3 separate regions of the Homo sapiens genome follow, and regions 1 and 2 are each linked to region 3. The links come from fine-mapping of genetic effects on gene expression. A gene starts in region 3. Each other region holds a variant in brackets. All regions are shown on one strand. Distances are from middle to middle. Region 1 overlaps SCAP (SREBF chaperone). Region 2 overlaps KIF9 (kinesin family member 9). Region 3 holds the start of SCAP (SREBF chaperone).

Region 1 (8,175 bases), 54 kb before region 3:
AAGCCCGGTGTTGGTATGGGCCAGGCTCCGGCCCTCCCCTACCCGGCCACTGTGCCCCTGCTCACCATGAGGTGGCCGCGCAGCACAAGCGGCACGATCTCCGTCTCGGGTGGCGCATAGCCGTAGTCGTCGCAGGGCAGCTCCCCGCGCCTCCGCCGCCCGGGCCCACCACCCAGCTGCCCGTAGTTGCGCGGGCATAGCACGCGGTAGAGGCAGAGCAGCAGCAGCACCAAGACGATGCCGGTGGCCAGGCCCAGCGCCGCCACCCTGCACGGGAGGGCGGACTGCTGTGAGACACACCTCACAGCCTGTCCCCTCCCCTCCTCCCTCTCCCCTACTCTTGCCTACCCGTCCCCCTCCCCGCACTCTTTCCCACCCCACCCCACCCAGCAGCCTTACTTGTACAGCGTGACGTCTCCATGGGCCTGCACCCCACCTGGGCCCTTGGGTCCTGCTTCCCAGTGCCCAGCAGGTATGGGCCCCGGTGGGGGCCAGGCACTGCGGCCGTCCTGAGGGTGCCGGCCCTCCAGAGCCTCCCTCGGGTTCAGGCGGAGCGTGACTGGGATGACGGGCAGCAGGCTGATGTACCTGGATTCGGACAGTGGGCAGCCTCAGCGGGGGGCCTCCCAGGGCTTCCTCCTGCTGTGCTCGCCAGCCAGTCCTCTCCCTCCTCCCCAGGCAGGCCTCAGCTCCACCGGCCAGACTCTCCCAGCATGGGGGGTTGGGGACAGAGGTAGGTCCCTCCCCAGCCCAGCTTAGCAGCCAACTTGCTGTCCCAGATACCAGCACCCAAACAGCCCTGGTGGCCGTGTGGGGTATCTCCCTCCCCACTCCTGGCACAGGTGGGTGGGTCTCATTCTGGTGAGGGCTGGCAGCCACCAGTGACTCCTCAGAGCAACCTGGGACTCCTCTCTTGGGTTATAGCTGCCTAAACCACCAGTTCCCACCTCACAACCTTATGAACTGTTTTAATTATTTGCATAATTCAAACCTGTGGGCCTCCTGCATTGGGGAAAGGGGATGGTGAGTTGACACCATCGAGTGAGGTGGCACCTGGCACGGCCCAGCTCACCTCTTGGCCAGTGTGATGTTGTAATAGCTGAAGAGCGTCGGCCAGTGGCGGAAGGACAATTTCCTCCAAAGTTCCTCATCCTCAGGCCCCCAGGTTACCTCTGGGACTGGGCTGTCATGGACAACCTCTGCTGGACCTCCACGCTCAGGTGACTCGCCTGGCGACGTCTGGTTCTCAGGTAGCTTAGGGGCATCAGGTGGGAAGATGGAGAAGGCAGGGTCCGGGTGGCTGGGGGGCAGCATGCCACTAGGCACGGGCATGGGAGCCAGGGCTCCCTCACCCAATGGGCTCTGTTCCGTCACCTGGGCAGCGAGGTAGTTGCGCAGCCCTGCTGGGTCTGTGTATACCAGGATGCCAATCCAGACAACGGTGCCAGCCTGCAGTGGGGCAGGGGGTACTCAGTGGGAGGAATGGGCCCCAACCCCCAGCAGCTTCAGCCCTCATGCTGAGAGGAAGCAGCACAGGGACCTCAGGCCTGGGGATGGAGAGAGGACACAGGCCCCACTGCGTCCTTTTCTCCTGCCTCTCCAAGTCCTCCTGCTAACACCTGCCAACACTTGCTGCTGGAGGGGCCTGCTTGCCTTTCCACAGTTAGGGGCTGAGTTTCTTGGCCTGGAAATACACTGAAGCACCCTGAGGTTTGACACAGAATGTCCCCACCCCTAAGCTCCACCTCAGCTGGAGCCAGAAAGCTGCTACCATTCCTACGGTCAGAGGGCCAGCAACCTGACCTGCTCCAGAGTCCCCCAGAGGTCCTAGTCCCAGGGGGCCTCAGCCTTCCTCCCATCTCAGTTCAGCTCCCTGGAAGAGGCACTGCTGCCCCAAGGCCAGCCCAGCCCGGCTGGTGAATGATTTTGCCCAGCACTTTCCAGTGTCTGCACACCATGCAGCGGCCGATGAACCCGACCCAGGGCAATGTGGTGGCCACAAGTGGGTCCATCCCAGAGCACTCAACTAACAGGCTCCTGTCCTGGGCCACTCTGGGGAGAGGATGGCTCCTGTACCTGAGAACCCTGGAGCTGCTTCTCCCACAGGCTTATCTCCTCAGAAGCCACTAGGGTCTGGGCAGGGAGGACACAACGGGCAACTCCCCAGAGCCAGGCTTCCAGGGGCCACCAGGGCCTGAGGAATACCCTTTGCCACTCTAAGGCCAAGTGCAGCACCACAAGGGGCCTGGAGCACCGGCCCTCCAGAAGAGGGCAGGGCAGGGCAGGGGTGGCAGGTACCATGATGAGGCGCTGTGCCAGGCGGGTGCGGGCCAGGAAGTAGACAACACGCAGCCTCTTGGGGAGCCGCAGGTTTCGGAAGGAAGACGGCTGCAACGTGATGGTGTGGGGTGTGGACGGCCTCACAGCCAGCTGCCGCTCGTAGCGCGTTGGCTGTCCCACTGGCTTGGCTGAGGGCAGGCAGGCCTCAGGGGGCAGTCGCTTGTTCAGGTCTGCTAGCTGTTGGGGGCACAGTGGTCAGGGCCTGAGTCCACCATCCAGAGGCTGCTCGCACAGGACCGCTGTCCTGCCCGAGGTCTACACCCTTCTCACCCAGGACTCCCTCAGTACAGCCAGGGCTGAGGAGGCGGGCAGGGCAGGGCTCAGCCCACTCCTACCTCCATCCGGCGAATGTCAATGGACAGGACAGTGGTGAAAAACAGCATCTGAAGGAAGAAGTCAGACACCAGCCCCACGACAGCAAAGAGACAGAACTCCTGGAATCAGAGCACATGGGGATGGGGGGGTGCCGTGACCTCACTGTCCCAGCCCAAGAGGAGCAGTACCCGGACTGCAGCCACCTCATAACCGGCAGGGCAGCAGCAGGCAGGGCACAGCAGAGATGAGAGATGCTGGTTGGTCCTCAGCTCACATACCAGCAGCAGCTCACCCCGTCTCCACCAGGGGGCAGAAGAAACCCTCACACTTTCTTCAGAAAGGGCTGAAAGGGAAGGGGAAGTACCTTCCCTGAATCTTCCGGTCCCTCTAGAGGGGACTGAAGGCCTGATCCAACCCGGAAACCTCTAAGCCCCACCAGCCTGCTCCCCAAAAAGTCCTTCCCCACTGAGCCCCCGCCCTGCTCATGCATCACCAACCCAGCTAGAGCCCAGGCCTGATTCAGGGGCTCTCAGAAAGGTTCCCAGCCAGCAACTGCCCCGGAACAATGAAGAGAGAGAGAGAGGGATTAATTCTCTAAAACTGAAAAAGGGTGAGCTCTCTGCTCCCCAAGCTCTGTCAGCAGACAAAATTTTCTGAGATGTCGGTGTTGAGACCTCTAGCACATCACCACAGTGCTACTCCGATCTGGGGTAAGACCATGGAGTGCAGATAGTGGCACAGTGGTTGTCTCAGCTCTAACGTCCCAAGACTGTACCCTATCCTGCAGATACTACTGTTTTTCCAGGAGAAGCAGCCCACAGCCCATCTGTTCTCTGCTCACCCCCATCCCTCAGCTGGCCTGCCAGCCCTGGGGGAAAGACGGGCGAGAAAAGATGGCATCCTCCCCTTCCTGCAACTCCTTCTGGAATGGCTGGCATCAGTCTGGGGTTCCAGCTCAGTGCAGGGCCACCTCCACCTCTGCTCACAGCCCACAGCTGAGTGAGGGCACTTTGCCAAGAGCAGGGTCACTCTGGGCAATGGGTGGTGGCCCTCCCACTGGTCAGGCCAGGCAAGGCCATGCGTCTGGCGACTGCGGCACAGGCCAGGGCCAAGGGAGGAGACCGGAGGAAGGGTCTAGGAACCCCACGGTGCTTCTCCCTCAAAAA[T/C]GGGAAACAGGTGTGACAAACTGCACAGCCAGTCCCCAGCTCCTGCCATGCCCTTGCAGCCTCCTCCTGCCACTTGGCTGAAAGGGAAGCAGGCAGGGAGGGGTAGGAAGACAGGGTCAAGGGCAGAGTCTGCCTGGCTAGGTGCTCAATCTGGGAACCCAGCCAGGGTTTGCTGAGCACTTCTGAGCCAGGCATGCCAGGGGCCATCTGGGTGCTGTAGTGATCTGCTTGCCAGGCAAAGAGGTCCCACCTCAGAAGCAAGGATGCCTGTGCTGAAGAGGGGAGCACCCTGCCCATGGCTGCACAGCTGGGGAGCACAGCAGTTGCTTCCATGCTCATCCAGGTGGCAGGCCTTGGGGCCTTACCTGGATGGCGGGCACTAGGGTGAAGTAGCCGATGAGGATGATGCCCAGCTCCGTGGCCATGTTCTTCATGATGGACCAGCTCTCGCTGCTTAGGCCTGCAGAGGGCAGCAACAGGGCACAGGGCAACACATGGCCACTCTGCGACATGACTCACACAACCTCATGGGCCTCGGAGTGGCAGAGGCATGGCAAGGCCCCCCAGCCCTTTGAAGGAGCCATTCCACCAAAGCACCCCAACCCTCAGGGTCCTGCTAATGCCCAGACTTTAAGGGGCCATCACCACCACACAGCTGCTACGGGGAACGGGTGTTCACAGCCTGGAGGGTGCAGAGGAGAGCTATAATCATCAAAAGAGGGAAGAAGCAGAGTGTGGAGATGAGAAAATCCACAAGGAAAGCCAAGTGCCACCCACAACAACCACATCCAACCTCCGCATGTGGTTCTTGTCTGGTCTGCACGGGCCAGCATGACAGTGTGCCCATCAACCACATGGCAGAAGCACTCGGCGGGTAGAGGACCTGGCTGCGTTCTTCCTCAAGCCCCTTCCTGTAGTGAGCCCTGATCCCACGCTATCACACTGTCGCATGTCTAAGGCTCTGTGCTCTTACTGGGTAAGGACAATTTCGCCCCATCTCTTCCTAACTCCATATCCAGCACAGGGCCTGGCTTATCACAGAGGCTCACAGAGGTCTGGATGAATGGACGGCTGCCTACAGCCCCATTCCTCACAGACATGGGGTGACGAGGAAGAAGAGGCTCAAGTGACCAGGCCTCCAAGGCCAGGCTCTCCCTTTTCTCATTTTCCCTAGAACCCCAGATCCCCAGTTTCTACCAGCAGGGCCAGAGGGAGCTTTTCTGGCAGCCGTGAAGGCAGCGTCTCTGAAATGGCCAGCCCCCGGGGCTTGGGCCTAGTGTGCTGGAGTGAGGCAGTAAGAGAAAATACTAGGCGCTAAACTCCCCAGACAGAAAGCCACCACCAAACACAAGCCCCACCCACACTGAAGTGCAGTGGTGTGATCACGGCTCACTGCAGCTTTGACCTCCCAGGCTCAAGCAATCCTCCCACCTCAGCCTCTTGAGTAGGTGGGACCACAGGTGCATGCCAATATGCCCTGCTAATTTTTCTATCTTTTGTAGACATGGGGTTTCACCATGTTGCCCAGGCTGGTCTTGAACTCCTGGGCTCAAGTGATCCACCTGCCTCAGCCTCCCAAAGTGCTGGGATTACAGGTGTGAGCCATGGCACCCAGCCTGGTTTACTTTCTTACTGACACATGAACCAGGACGAAGTACAGTCCAATGGCCCCATGGCTCCCCAGGGCACACACTCAAGAGCTGCCAGGGCCCAGTGGCCCACTGCATATTATGCCGGAGGCAAGAGCAAGGGACATTTCAAGGGCTCTGTTTGCTCACAGAGCGTTAACAGCAAGAGGAACAGGCCCCATTCCAGCCCCTCCTGCAGCCCTCTGCCCAACTCTCCCACTGCGTTACCTTGGGCGATCCGCAGCTTCACCTCCAGGTCTACCGGGGTTGAGACCACAGACTTGGTGAGCACCAACACATTCTCTAACCCAATAACCACCACAAGGTAGGGGAAAATCTCGCTGGGGACAGAGAAGGAGAAGGTGAGGACAGTGTTGTGGTGGTTCCCAACAGACTGGGGCCCTCAGGAAGGCTGTGGGGTTTCCAGCCTGTCATGGGGGCTGCTGAGTGACTCCCACAGGTGCTGGGCAGAAACCCTCCCTTGTCCACCTCACCCAACAAGACCTGCATCTACACAGCACTCAGCTTTCAGGCAGGCTCCAGAGCCTTGCAGAGGGGCCAGCAGCCATCCTGTCTCTAGCCATCCAGCACAGGAGGGCTGGAAGAGGCCCCTCAGGGAGAGCTGTGCAGCGCCACTGCTAGACCACACTTCTGCTGGCCCTTCCCAGGAGAAGACTGCTGGCTAAAGACAATGACTGCTGCCAAGACCCACACCAGTAACTCTGGGTGGACCCATCACAGCTAAATGCAAGGAGATGAAACCATCCTGAAGGCCCACTCACCTTTGTTGAGAAGCTGTGTGTGGAGAAGAACGACTGTTCCTACACAAAGCTCTACCAGCTATCTGAGCCCACTGTCCCACACTCCCCGCAGCAAACCCTAAGAAAGTCTATGTGCGAGGAACGCCAGCCAAGTTATACCTTGCAGGACCTCTGCTTTGGAGCCGAAGGAAGGGAGGGCCCTGTGAAGGGTATGGCAGACGGTATGGGGGAGGGTGGTGTTTAACAGTGTCAAGCTCAGGAAAGGGAGCAGGTATCTAAGAGCAACGAAACTACCAGAAACAAAATACGACGTCGCTTTTCATACGACCAGCCTGATGGGCCAAAGTGGTGGACAGGCCAATCCATAATCCATTAATAACCATTAATAGACAGGCAGGCGGGCCTAGCCAGAGCCAAGATCAAAGCCTGAGGACAAGCCGAGGGAAGGGCTTCCAGACTAAGGTTCAGAGAGGAGTGGCAAGGGGAAAGTAAACATCAGTGAAAAAGGCGACAAATTACAGTGTGCTCATATCTTCCAAAGAGCTTCCTCTAAAATGACCTATTTCATTAGGCATTTAAATGTTCTAATCATGAAAAAAAAAATGTTCTCTTCTCTATCTCACACCTCCAGTGGCTTAAGCCATCAAGCTGCAGTGTGTGTGTGGTGTGTGTATATAGAATACATAAACACAGACACACAAATCCGACTACACACATGCAATACATACTCATGTATACACAAACATACCAACACACACCCCTTATATACACACCCAGCCCACAAATATGCACTTTTGTACATATGGACACTCACTATAGCTAGATATGCTATATACAAACACAAGTATGAATACAAGCCAGACAAAGAAGAGGAAGAAAATGTACCTCTTAAATGTCAAAAACAACAATGTGAAGACGTGAGGTCACAGCAAAGTCCAGGGAAGGCCAAGAACCCAGAAGTGCAAGGCTCTCTGGCCTGAGCCCACCCTGTGGCCCAGTGGAGCCTGCTAGGGACCTACCCGCCATTGAGGGTGGGCGTCAGGCCGAAGAGTGTGCAGAGTCCCACAGACATGAGCAGCGAGCTGAGCACTGTGACCACGGCAGCCAGGGCCAGCCCCCACTTGGACTTGACCATGTCGATCTTCCCTGGAGGGCAGAGAGGGCGTATCAGGGCGGCCCCTCCCCCAGCCCCCGGCCCACTGGGGCTCCCGGGAGTAGGTTGCCCTGACAGTCGAGGAAGGGAAAACTCCTGGTTTCACCAAAGGAAAGGGACAGGCACAAGCACTTCCCAGTGTCATGGACACAGTACACCTTTTAGGAACCCTAACCCAGGAAGGGGCTGAAAGTGGGAAGAGCCCCGGCCCCACCCAAGCTCCTAAGACCCTGCTGGGGGACAAAGCCCTAGCTCTGATGACCACCAGGTGTGTTCTATCTCTCTACCCCAAGCCACCTCCAGAGCCAGGGAAGCAGGTGACATGGAAATGCCCGTTTAGCTTGGAGAAAGCCCTCAGCCTCCCTGCCATGAACCTACGCGTGGAGAAGTAGATGTAGGCAAACAAGATGATGTAGGTGGTCACAAGGGGGATGAGCTCAGCGACACCAATCTCCTCCTTGAAGTGCACGTGGACCAGGCTCTCCGCCCGAAGGCTGCAGTTGGGGCTGGGGTGCAGAAGCATCAGGCGGGCACGCAGGCTGCCCAGGAACCTGGTCAAGGAGCAGGGTGGGGGTAAATGGAAGTGTTGCTCTTGGTTCTGGGGACAAAGACAATCCCCGGACAGAGGGTCCATCAGGACCTCCCTCCTGCCCCTGTGTTGAAAGGGAACTTCTCTATGGTGCCTGAGCTTCTCTATAGTCTCCAGGGGCACTGGGAAAATCACAAAGGGGACAAAGTTTTCTCAGGAGCTCCCCCTGCTCCTTTCTTTGTCTCCCTTTCCGGACCTACTCCAACACTCTCTTTTTTATTTA
Region 2 (8,175 bases), 200 kb before region 3:
TTTGTATTTTTAATAGAGAGGGGGTTTCACCATGTTGGCCAGGCTGGTCTCGAACTCCTGACTTCCAGTGATCCGCCTGCCCCGGCCTCCCAAAGCTCTGGGATTACAGGTGTGAGACACCGCGCCTGGCCTTGCCTTGTCTTTCTGGCCCTTTAAAAAAGATCCTGCTATTGACGTTGAGGAAGTAAGTTGCTATGTTGTGAGAAGGCACTATGATCATGCCTGTGAATAGCCATTGCACATGTGCCCATTGCCTGGGCAACACAGCGAGAACTTGCATAAAAAAATAAAGAGTTCCTAGCCTATATGACTTCTAAAAGAATAACATACACTTGACTGATTTCTTTTCTTGTTTTTGAGACAGAGTGTTGCTCTATTACCCAGGTTGGAGTGCAGTGGCATGATCTCAGCTTACTGAAACCTCTACCTGCTGGGCTCAAGTGATTCTCCCACCTCAGCTTCCCAAGCAGCTGGGACCACAGGCATGCGCCCCCATGCCTGGCTAATTTTTGTATTTTTGGTAGAGGTGGGGTTTCACTGTGTTGCCCAGGCTGGTCTTGAACTCATGAGCTCAAGTGATCCACCCGCCTTGGCCTCCCAAAGTGCTGGAATTACAGGCGTGAGCCACTGTGCCAGTGCATTTGACTGGTTTCTAAGAGCCTTTATTTTATTTTTTTGAGATGGAGTCTTACTCTATTGCCCAGGCTGGAGTGCAATGGCTTAATCTCAGCTCACTGCAGCCTCTGCCTCCTGGGTTCAAGCAATTCTCCTGCCTCAGCCCCCCGAGTAGCTGGGATTACAGGTGCCCACCACCACTCCCAGCTAATTTTTTTTTTTTTTTTTTTTTTTTTTGAGATGGAGTCTCCCTCTGTCGCCAGGCTGGAGTGCAGTGGCACAATCTCAGCTCACTGCAACCTCTGCCTCCCGGGTTCAAGCTATTCTCCTGCCTAAGCCTCCTGAGTAGTTGGGAGTTAGCGCCACCACATCCAGCTAATTTTTGTATTTGTAGTAGAGACGGGGTTTCACCATGTTGGCCAGGATGGTCTCAATCTCCTGATCTTGTGATCCGCCTGCCTCCGCCTCCCAAAGTGTTGGGATTACAGGCATGAGCCACCGTGCCCAGCCTAATTTTTGTATTGTTAGTGGAGATGAGGTTTCACCATGTTGGCTAAGCTGGTCTCGAACTCCTGACCTCAGGTGATCCACCCACCTCAGCCTCTCAAAGTGCTGGGATTACAGGCATGAGCCACCGCACCTGGCTCTAAGAGCTTTTGTATAGTAAGGATGCTAATTCTTATTTTTCTCTTTTTCTTTTCTTTTTTTTTTTTGAGAAGGAGTTTTGCTCTTGTTGCCCAGGTTGGAGTGCAATGGTACGATCTTGGCTCACTGCAACCAGTGCCTCCCGGGTTCAAGTGATTCTCCTGCCTCAGCCTCCCTAGTAGCTGGGATTACAGGCACCCGCCACCACACCCAGCTTATTTTTTGTATTTTTAGTAGAGATGGGGTTTCACTATGTTGGCCAGGCTGGTCTCAAACTCCTGATCTCAGGTGATCCACCCACCTCAGCCTCCCAAAGTGCTAGGATTACAGGCATCACCCACTGCACCCGGCCTTATTTTTTTCCATACAAGAGCTCATAATTTAACTGAAAAAAGGGACATAAGAATCATTTCAACTATGTAAAGAAAAAGCTGCACAGGAAAAAAGACTGGAAGGAAATGAGCTAAAATATACATTATTGTTGCCTTATGTAAAAAACAGATTATGCATGAATCATTTTTTCTTTTTATTTACGTAACAGGAAAGGAAGAGGAAATAAAATTCTTTTTTGTTCCTTTTTTTTTTCAGCACTATCTGAACTTGCTAAATGTGCATATATTAATTTCCATTCTGATAATCAAAGTAAGTAAAAAACTAGCTGGACACAGTAGCTTGCCTGTAATCCCTGCACTTTGAGAGGCCGAAGTGGGAAGATCGCTTGAGCCCAAGAGTTCAAGACCAGCCTGGGCAACATGGCCAGACCTTGTCTCTACAAAAAAAAAAAAAAAAAAATTAAGTGGGCATGGTAGCATGCTCCTGTGGTCCCAGCTACTTGGGAGGCTGAGGCAGGAGGATCACTTGAGCCCAGGAGGTCGAGGCTGCAGTGAGCCATGTTCATGCCAGTATACTCCAGACTTGGAGAAAAACCAAGATCCTGTCTCAAAAAAAGAAAAAGAAAAAGAAAAAGAAAAGCTGAGAAGGAGGGTGGCAGGGAGGGAGAGAAGGAAAGGAACCCTCAGGTTTTATTATCTCACCTCAAAAAGGAGGCTGAATGCATCCTCCTCCTGACTTGTGAGGTGAACTGACAAGCCCTTAATGAAGACTCCTTGAGGGTTTTCCACGATGGTCATTGGTGTGACTGAGGGTCCAACATAGGGCAGAGTGGACAGGAGATCAAACAGGCTCTCATTATAGATTTCCAAGTAGGAAACACGCACAGTGATGGCATGTGTGGGGCGTTCTTCGATCATCCTAAAAACCTAGATGACAGATTGTACAGCGGTCACCAAGAGCAGAACCCCAACAGCCAACTAGCATAAGGGGGGCTTCCTAACTCAGAAGGGAACATCAAGATGTATAGAATAATTATTGTCCTAAAGGAATTGGGTGATATTTAGTATCATCTTGTAGTGTTTTGAGGCTTGACATCAGATTGGCTAACACTTAAACCATCTCACGAAGTAGAGGCATAATGAGTGGAAAGGACTCTGGAGTGAGGATTTCTTATTTTAGAGTCTCATCATTTATATGCCTCTTTCAAATCTATTTAATTCCATCCACATATAAATCTCTGTGAATGAGGCAGTGCAGGAGCAATACGTATTTGTGGAAGGCACTACAAAATAAAATTATTTGTCAGCCGGGTGTGGTGGCTCACACCTGTGAGCCCAGCACTTTGGAAGGCGGAGGTGGGCAGATCATGAGGTCAGGAGATCGAGACCATCCTGGCCAACATGGTGAAACCCTGTCTCTACTAAAATTACACAAATTAGCTGGGCGTGGTGGCGTGCGCCTGTAGTCCCAGCGACTCGGGAGGCTGAGGCAGGAGAATCTCTTGAACCCAGGACGCAGAGCTTGCAGTGAGATGAGATCACGCCACTGCACTCCAGCCTGGGTGACAGTGAGACTCCATCTAAAAAATAAATAAATAAATAAATAAATAATTTGTCTATTGGTCACTCAGCTAGTAAGGGTAGAAGTAAAGCCAGAACTCAGCCTTCTCAACTCCTAATTCCCTCCCCAGTGCTTATCAAGGAAGGGATAATTCCTGAGGTCCTGCCTTCCTCTAAGAATTTAGACCGGTTTTGTTCAAAATAGTAGACACAAGTTACAGATGGCTGCTGAGTATCTAAAATGTGGCTAGTACAAATGAACTGAATTTTAAATTTTATGTAATTTTAATTACAGTTAGATTTAAAAACTGATGCAATTCAGTTATTGGTAAACTTTAAGTATGTCTGGAACAACTTGGGTATGTAAATCTACTTTTTCAACATTTTATGAAATCTAAATACAGATCAAGCATTTCTGATAATATTTATGCCTAAACTGAAATGTGCCCCAAGTATAAAATATGTACTGGATTTCAAAGACTTAGTATGAGAAAAAGAATGTAAACTATCTCAATAAGTTTATATTGATTACATGCGGAAATATTTTAAATATATTTAGTTAAATAAAATATATCATTAAAATTAATTTCATCTGTTTATTTTTACTTTTTAAAATGTGGTTACTGGAAAACTCAAATTTGCATGTGACTTACAGTATATTTCTATTAGTGGCACTGGGCTAGATTACTAAAGTCTAAGATGCTGAGATACTGAAGCTTTGACAGTGGGATATTAAGGGTATTGCTCCAAAAACAGGAGCATGGATGGTTCACATACTAGAGGAATGTATACACTTCTTATAGGACAGGGCTGCAAAAAATCCTGTCCTATAACACTTCTTATAGGACAGGGCTGTAAAGCTGCCTCTTGGCAGCTTTTGCCTCCTACCTCCGACCAGAGGGTCCTTACAG[A/G]ACCCAGGCTAGTGGGGCCCAAAGGAAGGCCCTTCTGTCTTATCTTCAGTTATGCTATTGAGACCCCCCGGGCTGACACAGTCCTGAAAGCTCAAGTCATGCCCTCCTTCTTGCTTTTGATCTTTCAGGGGCTGTGGTGGTGAAAAAAGCCAGAGTAGGCCAGTAAGGAAGTTCTGCAAGGGTCTATATGCCCCTCATTAAAACCAGGAAAGAGAATGATTAGGACCTCCAAATCCTTAATTACAGGATCACAGACCACTGGAGCAGCAAGAGGCTGATTAGCATGCCTGACTCCCTCCTTCCCAAATGAGGAAACAGGCTCAGTGTGGGTATGGCTCAGAGTCTGACACCCAACCTCCTGGTTTCCTGAGGCCCCTGACTCTACTGACTCCAGAGCCCTGTGTATGTTGTCTCCAGTACCAGTATCCACTGCAACTCCTTTGAGGCCTGGTCCCCACTGTCTCTAGTAGCTGGCCCAGGGTCAGTAACATCTATGGCAGAGAGAGGGAACCTGTGTGGCATCCCACCCTTGGGCCCACTCTCTACCTGCTGCAGGGCACGAGGGAGGATCCCCCGGTGCTTGTAATTCTCAGTTGCCCCCATCATGGTGTATGTCTTGCCAGCTCCCGTCTGCCCATAACACATGATGGTGCCTGCAAACATTTCAAAACACGGTGACATCCAGGAAAATAGCTCCAAGGATAACTCTCCCCTCTCCCAGCATGCCTGGTGCCAGCCAGGGCCCTTTGCATGAAGATGGCCAGTGGGGGCAGCCAAGAACATCAGGAATTCCACCATGGAAGAGGATGGGTGGGCAGGGGAACAGGGACAAAAGTGGTCAAAACAAGGACATCTGCCCTGAATCTGTGGTCCCCACAATGCTCTGCTGTTCCCTCCACCAAGAGATGATCCGGCCCTAGGGCTTCTGAGAAGGACAGGGAATCTCAGGGTACAGAGGAACTGGAACTTTTCCTAAAAAGATGAGGAGGGAGATAGGAGCATTAGACTCCAGCCCTTCTCTAGCACAGCTATGAACTGCCAGGGTCTCAGGGTTGGCAGGAGGCATCAACTTCCCCACAGAGGCAAAGAGGGGCTTTCAAAATCTCCAGGAAGAGATGGAGTGGAAAGGGCATTTTCTGTCAAGGGTGAGAATTCTTTGTAGACTACAAATTCCTGCAGGATGAAACAGGGCTCCTAGTTGGTTCCATGTCACTTCCAGAAATGTACCACCATGATCAGGCCCTGATCTGGTCCACTGCCCACCCTGGGAAGACTTTCATTGCACTTCTCAACATCCTTTAGGTCTACCATCACCACCAGGCTCCGGGACACAAACCATGCAGTCACCCTGAGCTCCGGCTCCTATCTGTTCTTCCCCTTAGCATGGGCAGCCTGAGCCAGACCCCATCCCACAGGCTGCCCATGGGCATTTACATGGCAGATCTGCCCAGGCAATGCTGGGCTGTGAAAATTTTTTGCCTTTGTCACACAGACACTCTAGTTCTTGGGACTGGTGGCAGGTTTTACACAAGCGATCCTGATTCAGCATCTGAGTTGGAGCCAGAAATGGTGTCTATTAACCCAACACAAATGAACAGGAAGGAGTCACTTCAGCTGCAAATCAGAGCCCATTTGTGGTTCCACAGCACCAGTGCTCAAGACTATTCATCTCCCTGGGCCTTAGTTCCTCTGTCTTCACCTCCTCAAGGTCACAATCAGAGCATCATGAAAACCAAAAGAGAACCTCCTTAAGTCAGTGGGGACCACACCTACGTATCACATTCAGGATAAATTACAGCATCTACACTCAATGCACTTTTAAATATAAAACCTAAACTTGCAAAACAGGGAACATCCTAGTCAGCAGCCACCAGATGGCAAAGTCTACAAACTGTGACATATTCTTTTATACAATCCTATACTAGAATATCAACTGTACATTGATTGTGTTGGTAGAATACATGAAAATAGCTCCTAGCAGGAAGCTGAGAGACAAATGTTTGGACTCCATCAAATTTGTCATAAAGACGTATCTTCAAAACTAATACTTGAGAGATTTGAAACAGGATAATTGAACCCCTGTGACCTATAGAGAGCCATAGTCTTTTAATTTTCCTATGAAGGTAGAATCCCAGGACATTGGATCAAGCCATGCCCACAATGTCAACAAGCAAACAGTAAGTTTTGCAACGTAAGAACATGGAGACAGACAAACATACAAATGATAGTGAGTGAGCTTTTATTTTATTCACCATAAAATATTTGCATCTCTTACTCCTCAGGTTCTTACATAAGACAACATTTAATTAATTAAGTTACCATTATAGCCATCGAGGGCCTGAGAAACCACATCCTTTGCAACTGTCTCATAAACCAAGTCCTGGGAGGCATCGTGAAGAACTCCATCCAACTTAAACGACCAGTCTGTCTGTTGGTTATTGACAACTCCTCTCCGAATGTCTTTTTTTAAGTGAATATCAATGCTCTAGGAAAAAAGAGTGAGAAAGAAAAAAATGTTATTTGTTCAAAAATGGGTATAAAAAAAATCACTGATAGCTGAGGCCTAATCTGGAGGGAACAGAGGAAATGAACTGTAGGATGAATGGGGACTCCCACGTAGGGGCTGATATTCCAGATGAATTCTTTGGGATGGGAGAAGAGAGTTCCTGCAGGGAGATGGAAAGATCAGGAGAGTGGAGCACTTTCTAGTTTTAGCACCTCTAACCCTAGTTCACACGGTGCTGTCTTTGTTTCCCCACCTATGATATGAGGTCAAATTTATCATGTTCTTATTAAACAAGTTTTAGATAGATTCCATAAGCATAGGGAGGCCTTGAATTATGCCAGAGGGAATAGTGAGCCTGGTAACAGAGGCCTGGGCTCCAGCCTCATTGCTCTGGTTGCTGGCAGTGAGGCCTCCCTCAGCTCTGCATTATGGTGAACATCTACTTCCACACACACGCTATGAGCCAAAGTGAGTGATGATGAAATGAAAGCCACAGAGAAGGCTATGGACTTCTCAGACATAGGAATTAAGAGTAAATTGAGGGTGTCATCAGCAGATTTTTAGATGCATGCCCCTTCATAGTAAGCCATTGTAGTAGCAGCTGGCTTAGGGACATACTGGGTAAGGTCAGTGGTAGATTCCAATCTTCTTGATGAGAACTTCTGATGTAAAGACTCTTGCTGAAATCTTACACTGACTGCCCTAATGCAGGAGCTATACCTGGCTACAGAGAGAAAAATTAAGATGAAGAAAGACAGACTTGGCCGGGCATGGTGGCTCACGCCTGTAATCCCAGCACTTTGGGAGGCCGTGGCAGGTAGATCACCTGAGGTCAGGAGTTCCAGACCAGCCTGGCCAACATGGCAAAACCCCGTCTCTACTAAAAATACAAAAATTAGCCAGGCATGGTGGCACGTGCCTGTAATCCCAGCTACTAGCAGGGCTGAGGCAGGACGATCGCTTGAACCTGGGAGGCGGAGGTTGCAGTGAGCCAAGATTGTGCCACTGTACTCCAGCCTGGGCAACAGAGTGGGACTCTGTCTCAAAAAAAAAAAAAAAAAAAGAAAAGAAAGAAAGAAAGACTTGGTCCACTCACACATTAAATGCTCTGTGCTTCTGTGTTCGCTGAAAACCATGTCCAGCAGGACACATTTGATAGGGCTGCATGTGAGCTCTTTTCTGACCGCTAGGACCTGCGAGGCTTGGGCAGTTTGCCCTTGAATTTTTCCTTTGAAGAATGTCTCAATGCTGCCCAGAGTAGGCCCATAATTGTTTGCTGAATGAAAATATCTAACACTCTTACACTGTCCTAAGCCTTCAGAAGCATTCTCAGGGTGAGGATATAGGGACGGATATATCTTTCCACTTCTCTTGATAAGTATTTCTCCAGCTGTTTTGATAAGCTAAACAGTAATGAACTCAAGATATTCTTACTGCACCCCATGGGCGATTATACAATGACAGATCAATCATTAGAAAGCTTTATGAATGTGAACAAATGTCAATTCTTCTGTGTCAGATACGAGGGTAAAGGTAAACTTATTAATTTATTAAAGGTAAAATTATTAAAAGACAATTAACGATGGGATTTTATTAATTTCTTCAT
Region 3 (8,175 bases):
GCTTAAGCAGAAACTGTCAAATGGCAGTGGTCAAATTGCTGTCACCTTCTTGCTGAGTTCCACCATCCCCACACTAGAGTCAGTGACGCTGGCTTCCTCCCACCACCCCTACCACCTTCTTCCACTACCCTTACCTGCCAATGAGCAACAGAAAAGACTGTGGGCTGCGTGCAGTGGCTCACGCCTGTAATCCCAGCACTTTGGGAGGCCGAGGCGGGCGGATCACCTGAGATCGGGAGTCTGAGACCAGCCTGACCAATAGGGAGAAACCTCGCCTCTACTAAAAATACAAAATTAGCCAGGCGTGGTAGTGCATGCCTGTAATCCCAGCTACTCAGGAGGCTGAGGCAGGAGAATCGCTTGAACCTGGGAGGCGGAGGTTGCAGTGAGCTGAGATCACGCCATTGCACTCCAGCCTGGGCAAGAAGAGCGAAACTCCATCTCAAAAAAAAAAAAAAAAAAACAGACTGTGGAAGCAGGTACAAGAACAGCATAAAAGGATGGACTCTTTTGTCAGCCAAATCTCAGTTTGCACACAACACACTCCGTCTCAAATTCGCTAGGTGACCCAGGGCCAGTCAAATAACTTTTCTAAAACTCTCCGTAAAGGGGGTGATAACAGTGTTATCTCACCTGGTTATTATGAAAACTAAGTGAGATAAGCTAATATTACAGTACCTAGGACACTGCCTAAACAGCACAAGTGCTCGATATCACCCAGAATTATTACTCTGAGTGGCAAAAGACGACACCTGAACCTTGTTTCTTTAGCCAACTCAGTAAGGTAGCAAGTTCTAACGGAAGGAGCTCAGGTGGCAGAGGTGTGGCAGACCTGGTTTGAAGGATGATCCACCCTTGACAAGCTGGGTGACCTTGTAAGAACCCAGCTTCTCTATGAGGAGTCCTCTCATCTGTTCAACGGGGGTGATGACACAAACTGTATATGAAGTACCTGTCAGAGCCGGTAAAACACTGGCAACCACCAATGGTGAGAGTAAGCAAACAGCACATGAACCTGTCATTCCAGGATCCCTGAGGCACATTCACATGCATGGCTAGATTCTGAGAGAGAAAACATCCCTAAAGTCTACCACCAAATGTTAATATACATACCTGCAGTGAAGCCCACAGGCACACTTTTTCTTTCCTTTTTTAGTTTATTTAATTCCTGAATCGCATATGCCTCCATTTTTCTAGTAATAAACTTGTAGTAAACTTTTTACCCACCTAATGACAGTGACTGAGGGAACGGGGGAAGGGCCCCAAACCAGTGATTATAAAGTCCACGGAGATCTCTAGAGAGGGGGCGTTTTTGCCGCAACAGCAAAAGAAAAGAGAGAGCATTCAAGCCAGGCGCGGTGGCTCACGCCTGTAATCCCAGCACTTTGGGAGGCCGAAGCGGACGGATCATGAGGTCAGGAGATAGAGACGATCCTGGCTAACACGGTGAAACCCCGTCTCTACTAAAAATACAAAAAAGTAGCCGGGCATGGTGGCGGGCGCCTGTAGTCCCAGCTACTTGGGAGGCTGAGGCAGGAGAATCGCTTGAACCCGGCAGGCGGAGGGTGCAGTGAGCCGAGATGGCGCCACTGCACTCCAGCCTGGGCGACAGAGCGAGACTCCATCTCAAAAAAAAAAAGAAAGAAAGAAAAGAGAGAGCATTCAAACATCAGATCAGTTCATAATAAATTTAAAAAGCCTAATTCTTTCCATTTCAATTTATGACCAAAAGAATAAATATGGAAATATATTTATACAGTGTTAAATATATTTATATAGTGTTTTTTACATCATGTGCTCAGTGGGAATACTGCAAATGTGTAAAACACCTAAAATGTAAACTATATTAACACACATTTTAAAAGATACAGGTCTTGGCCGGGCACGGTGGTTCACGCCTGTAATACCAACACTTTGGGAGGCCAAGGCTTGTATAATGCTTGAGCCCAGGAGTTAAAGACCAGCCTGGGCAACACAGCAAGACCCCCATCTCTACAAAAAAATACAAAAATTAGCCGGGCGTGGTGGCACACACCTGCTGTCCCAGCTACTGGGGAGGCTGAGGTGGGAGGATCACCTGAGCCCAGGAAATCAAGGCTGCAGTGAGCCGAGATCGCGCCACTGCACTCCAGCCTGGGAGACAGAGTGAGACCCTGTCTCCAAACAAACAAACAAAAAACAAGTCTTTAGGCATCACTGAGGAACACCTAAAATGGATACAGCACTAACTAGACACCCTCGACCCTGACTCCCTAATAAAAGCGTCAGTCTTTTGCTCAATATCCTGACCTGACAGCAAACCAATAAAGACACGGCATAACCAAACTCCACAAATTTTTGGCCAAATAAAAGAAACACACGCAACGCTAACATTAAACCTTTTCTATGGCCGCTTCACGATAAGTATTACAAAATCCCCAGAAAGAGTTTATTCACCTAGCTCCGACTGTCGCCATACAAGGTGGAGCAGTGAGTGACCCGAACCAGGGGCTGACCCCTGCCAGAGCCCCCACAGCGACTCACTGCCCCCCCCTCCGCATTCCCATCTGCACAACTTTCTGTGATTCAAACAGTCCGGAGCCAGGGCTCCCTGCAACTAACGCTATCGTGACATTATAAGCCGGTTAAATACTGAGGTCATAAACCCACTCAGAAGTAAACAGAAGCAACATTAGTGAGCAAAGTTGAGGTTTAAGCAATACGGAAAACTAGAAACCAAGCAAAACCAGCAAAGCAACTAGCGTTGTCTCTCAATAAGATCTTCCAAAAGAGGCAAAGTGGAGAACCTGCTCTCCCCCGCACTCCGGAAAACCCAAACAGCACCAAAGCAGGTTCTACAACAGCTTCCCGGAGCAACTAGGCCAGGGGATGCGACGCCGCGCATCTCCCCCCGTCACACCAGGGGCCCGCGGAGGTCTGGTGGGGACGCGGAGCTCCAGGGGCCGGCCGGTGCAGGGACACGGCCGGGTTGGGGGTGGGGACGCGCGGCCCTGCCTCCTTGCCGGCCTGCGGTCTCCAGGGCCGGCCCGCACGGCTGCTGGACAGCGCCATGCCCACGCACCCCCGAACCTAGCGGCCCCCATTCCGGAACTCCCAGCTCCACGCGGCTGGGGTCGAGCTGGGGCCCGCGGGCAGGCGCCCTGAGCACCCGCGTGACGGTACCTGTGGTGGCAGCACCTCCCAAGCTGCGGCGGCGGCGGCGGCGGCGACGGGGGCGGCAGCAGGGGCGGAGCGCGGCGTGCGCGCTCTCGGCCCGCAGTCCGGTGCGTGGCGCCCTCCCTCTCTCTCCTGGCCGCCGGGTGCCCGCCCCTTCACCTCTCACCTCCTACCTTTACCCTCCCGCCCCGCCGCCCTCCGCACGTGCGCCCAGCGGCGTGCGCATGCGTAGTCGAACCACATTCGCGTCTCCCGTTCGCCCTCTGGTGGACACCGGAGGGAAGTATGGACGGCCGGGCCGGGCCGGGCCGGGCGGAGCGTGAAGCCGGGTTAGGGCCCGCCGGGTTTGGGCCCACCGGCTCTCATCGGTCATCAAGAACTTGCAGAAAGCCGGGCACGGTGGCTCGCGGTTGTAATCCCAACACTGTGGGAGTCCAAGGCGCGAAGATCGCTTGAGCCGAGGAGTTAGAGACCAACTTGGGCAACGTAGGAGACCTCCGTCTCCACAAGTAAAATTAATTAGCCGGCTGTGGTGGCGCGCACCTGTGGTCCCAGCTACTCAGGAGGCTGAGGTAGGAGGATCACCTGAGCCCGGGAGGTCGAGGCCACAGTGAGACAAAAAACAAAAAACCCACCCTGCACAAGATGCTCATGTTCCCTGTTTTATAATGGCAAAAAATTAGAAGCAGCTGGGCCGAGATACACTGCAAATGCAGATGAGAAGAATAAATAATGTCCATAAAACTAGTTTCCCTATAGACATTTAAAAGCATAAGTTGACATTTAACCATTTTCCACAGGGAACAGGTATTTGTTATAATAGCAACAGCTACGTTCACTGTTTACTAGGTGTCAGTTGCGGAGCTGGTATTGTACATGTCCTCGCATTTGGCCCTCCTGAAAATCCGAGGTAGGTCTTGTTACAGGGCCTCACAGAAGGGGAAGGGGAGGCTGCCTCCCCTCGAGGGAAACACAGGTCCCCACCTGCCCAGCTCTGGCCCAACTAGAGACGCTGCCCGGACCACTCTGGGGGGACTTTGATCATGCTACTGCATGCCCTTGCTGTACCCAGGTCTTGTGTCAGAGGTAAGCCTCCCCTCAGCCCCTGCCTACTGCCCGAGACACCCGCACCCACCCCAGGGCTACCTGGATAAGGCAGGCCCTGTACCTGCCCTCAAAGGCACCAGCAAACTTCTCTGGGAGTTCCAGAAAGTGCAGATCTAGTCACCAATGCAAGGCAGAAATTAGAGGTGGCCCTTCTGACCGCACCAGCCCCCGACCCACTACACATTCTTCAGATACCTCCTCCTAAAACCCAGTTCCCACCGGACTCTGGCCTCCCTCCTTGCCCACCACACTATTGTCACAATGAAAGTAACAATGGGGACAGTGGGCCTTGGCCCAAAGTGACTTTCAGGGTTATGACATTTTCAGCATTGTCTTTTGGCTTAATATGGGAATTTTGATCCTATAAAGAAAGTATTCGCTGGGCGCGGTGGCTCACGCCTGTAATCCCAGCACTTTGGGAGGCCAACACGGGCAGATCATGAGGTCAGGAGATCGAAACCATCCTGGCTAACACGGTGGAACCCCATCTCTACTAAAAATACAAAACAAACAAAAAAAAAATTAGCCGGGCGTGGTGGCAGGTGCCTGTAGTCCCAGCTACTCGGGAGGCTGAAGCAGGAGAATGGCATGAACCCGGGGGGCAGAGCTTGCAGTGAGCCGAGATCATGCCACTGCACTCCAGCTTGGGCGACAGAGCGAGACTCCGTCTCAAAAAAAAAAAGAAAAAAAAAAAGAAAGAAAGAATTTTTTAGGTTATTTTTATTTTTACATTTGAGGTCTCACTCCTTTACCCAGGCTGGAGTGCAGTGGTGTGGTCATAGCTCACTGCAGCCTCAACCTCCTGGGCTCAAGTGATCCTCCCAAGAAGGTAGGACTACAGATGAGCGCCACCATGCCATTTTTGTTTTTGTTATTTTTATCAAGATGGGGTCTTTTGCTGTGTTGCCCAGGCTGGTCTCAAACTCCTGGGCTCAAGCAGCCTTCCCATGTTGGCCTCCCAAACTGCTAGGATTACAGGCATGAGCCACCGTGCCCATCCTGTTTGTTGTATTAAATGAGAGAGAAGCAACAATAGAGAGCATTCAGGGGAACTTACCTACACCCCTTACCTATCCTGACATCACTCTCTCCAGGTCTGATCCCTTGAAATACCATCATTTGTCCCCTCAGAAACCTTGGGCATGAAGGAGTCCTCCTGAGCCCTGGGCCCACTGTACCAAAGTCTTCTCTCCAGAGAGGGTCAGGAGCCTGTCTTTTAACCACCTCCATGGCAGGACTTAGCCAGACTGCCTTGGGAACTGCTGTCATTCTCCTCACTCACCACCTCTTCCCACCCAACCACTCCATCAAAGCTGTGTTTGCAGAGGACTGACCCTCAGTGAAGTCTGGACACTCCCCCACAAAAAATAAGAGGCTCCAAAACTGACAAGCACCTAGCTAAGTACCTTTGTGCCTTGAAGCATGGCAAACAATCCTCCACTGCCCTAAGAGAACCCACTGAGAATCCTGTGGAGCCTCTGGGGAAGCTGGGGTTTATGGGGCCCTGGTAAATCTGCTACAGAATGCCCCCCATGGAATATAATGAAGTGGACATGATTTTTGGGCTTCTCCCACAACATTTTTTTTTTTTGAGACACAGTCTCATTCTGTTGTCCAGGCTGGAGTGCAGTGGTGAGGTGTTGGCTCACAGCAACCTCCCCCTCCCAGGTTCAAGTGATTCTCCCACCTCAGCCTCCTGAGTAGCTGGGATTATAGGTGTGCGCCACCATGCCTGGCTAATTTTTTTTTGCATTTTTAGTAGAGACAGAGTTTCGCCATGTTGGCCAGGCTGTCTCAAACTCCTGATCTCAGGTGGGATCCACCCGCCTCAGCCTCTCAAAGTGCTGGGATTACGGGCGTGAGCCACCTCACCTGGCCCTTTTTTTTTTTTTTTTGAGACCAAGTCTCTGTCACCCAGGCTGGAGCACAGTGGCACAATCTTGGCTCACTGCAACCTCCACCTCTCAGGTTCCAGCGATTCCCGTGCCTCAACCTCTTGAGTAGCTGGGACTACAGGCTTGCGCCATCGCGCCAGGTTTATTTTTGTATTTTTAGTAGAGACGAGGTTTTTGCCATGTTGCCCAGGCTGGTCTCGAACTCCTGGGCCCAATCGATCCACCCGCTGTAATCCCGGGATTACAGGTATGACCCACCATGCCCAGCCTCCTACAACATTTAATATGAAAACATAACAGAAAAGTTGAAAGAACCATAGAGTGAACACTCATATACCCTAGATTCAACTATTAATGTTTTGCTTAGTATCTCATGTCTATCTAAAAAAATCTATCCTTTTATTCATCTATCTGTAATTGCCCAAGGGTTCTTCTTGCCCACTGCGCAGACAAAATCAATTCACTGAGGCCTTGGCATTGCAGTAAAGAGTTTCACTGACGCAAGGCTGGCGATGCACAAGGCCACGCAGAAGATGGAGCTGTTACTCAAATCAGTCTCCCCAAAGGCTTAGAGGTCAGGGTTTTTCAAGGATAGTTTGGTAGGCAGGGTGCTAGGGAATGGGAAATGTTGATTGGTTGGGGATGCAATCATAGGAGGAGTCCTCAAGCGCTGAGTCAGCCTCTGGGTGGAGTCAGCAGAAATGCAAAAGTCTGAAAAGAAACACCTCAAGGCCGGGCGCGGTGGCTCACGCCTGTAATCCCAGCACTTTGGGAGGCTGAGGCAGGTGGATCACGAGATCAGGAGATCGAGACCTTCCTAGCTAACACGGTGAAACCCCGCCTCTACTAAATATACAAAAAATTAGCCGGGTGTGGTGGCGGGCACCTGTAGTCCCAGCTACTCTGGGGGCTGAGGCAGGAGAATAGCATGAACCCAGGAGGCGGAGCTTGCAGTGAGCCGAGATCATGCCGCTGCACTCTAGCCTGGGCAACAGAACGAGACTCTGTCTCAAAAAAAAAAAAAAAAAAAAAAGAAAGAAAGAAAGAAAGAAAGAAAAGAAACATCTCAAAAGGCAAGTCTTAGGTTCTACAATAGTGATGTTATCTATAGGAGTAACTGAGGAAGTTACAAATCTTGTGACTTCCAGAGCAATGACTGGTTATCATTTAACTACACCTACACCTTAGCAGAATTCAGGCCCCTCCTATAAAAATCCTAGACTTGTGGCTTTTCATTAGTTTTACAAAGGCGGTTTAGTTTTGGAGAGGGCTAATGTCATCCTTGCTTTAAGGTTGAACTATAAATTCCTCCCAAAGTTACCTTCGCCTATCCCCAGGTTGGAGGTTAGAAGCAAGATAGAGCTGGGCACGGTGGTTCACTCCTGTAATCCCAGCATTTTGGGAGGCCGAGGCAGGCAGATCACCTGAGCAGGAGTTCGAGACCAGCCTGACCAACATGGAGAAACCCTGTCTCTACTAAAAATACAAAATTAGCCAGGTGTGGTGGCGCATGCCTGTAATCCCAGCTACTCAGGAGACTGAGGCAGGAGAATAGCTTGAACCTGGGAGGCAGAAGTTGTGGTGAGCCGAGATCGTGCCATTGCACTCCAGCCTGGGCAACAAGAGCAACACGCTGAGAGAAAAAAAAGAAAAAGAAAAGGAAGCAACATGGAGTCAACCATGTCAGGTTTTTCTTACTGCCATAATTTTGCAAAGGTGATTTCGTATCAATCCTTTATTTTAAGAGATAGGGTATTGCTCTATGGTCCAGGCTGGAATGCGGTGGCACAATCACAGCTCACTGCAGCCTTGACCTCCTGGGCTCAAGCAAGCTTCCCAAGTAGCTGGGACCACAGGTGGGTATGACCACTCCCAGCTAAATTTCAGAGTTTTTTAAATAGAGATGAGGGTCTCTCTGTTGCCCAGGCTGGTCTTGAACTCTTGGCCTCAGGCAACTCTCCCATCTTGGCCTCCACAAGTGCTAGGATTATAGGTGTGAGCCACCATACCCAGCCCC

Evidence for each region.
Region 1: its variant is fine-mapped to the expression of SCAP in whole blood (INTERVAL, PIP above 0.99).
Region 2: its variant is fine-mapped to the expression of SCAP in whole blood (TOPMed, PIP 0.98).

Annotation. Positions count from the first base shown.
Region 1 is chr3:47,418,256-47,426,430 of GRCh38, forward strand. SCAP (SREBF chaperone) reads right to left here. Exons shown (of 23, transcript NM_012235.4): 7 at 7,742-7,914; 8 at 7,230-7,356; 9 at 5,678-5,790; 10 at 4,187-4,281; 11 at 2,676-2,774; 12 at 2,299-2,517; 13 at 1,073-1,449; 14 at 400-588; 15 at 66-267. Among named protein-coding and RNA genes, the nearest start is that of PTPN23-DT, 41 kb to the left of the region's middle. RefSeq lists an enhancer at 3,257-3,306. The variant T/C (reference allele first, on the strand shown) is at 3,822.
Region 2 is chr3:47,268,943-47,277,117 of GRCh38, forward strand. KIF9 (kinesin family member 9) reads right to left here. Exons shown (of 21, transcript NM_182902.4): 3 at 6,383-6,548; 4 at 4,610-4,716; 5 at 2,295-2,519. Among named protein-coding and RNA genes, the nearest start is that of KIF9, 9.8 kb to the right of the region's middle. The variant A/G (reference allele first, on the strand shown) is at 4,064.
Region 3 is chr3:47,472,637-47,480,811 of GRCh38, forward strand. SCAP (SREBF chaperone) reads right to left here and starts at 3,305. Exons shown (of 23, transcript NM_012235.4): 1 at 3,163-3,305. It overlaps LOC105377073 (a long non-coding RNA gene), which reads left to right and starts at 3,309. Exons shown (of 3, transcript XR_940821.3): 1 at 3,309-3,728; 2 at 4,006-4,066. RefSeq lists a silencer at 2,853-3,392.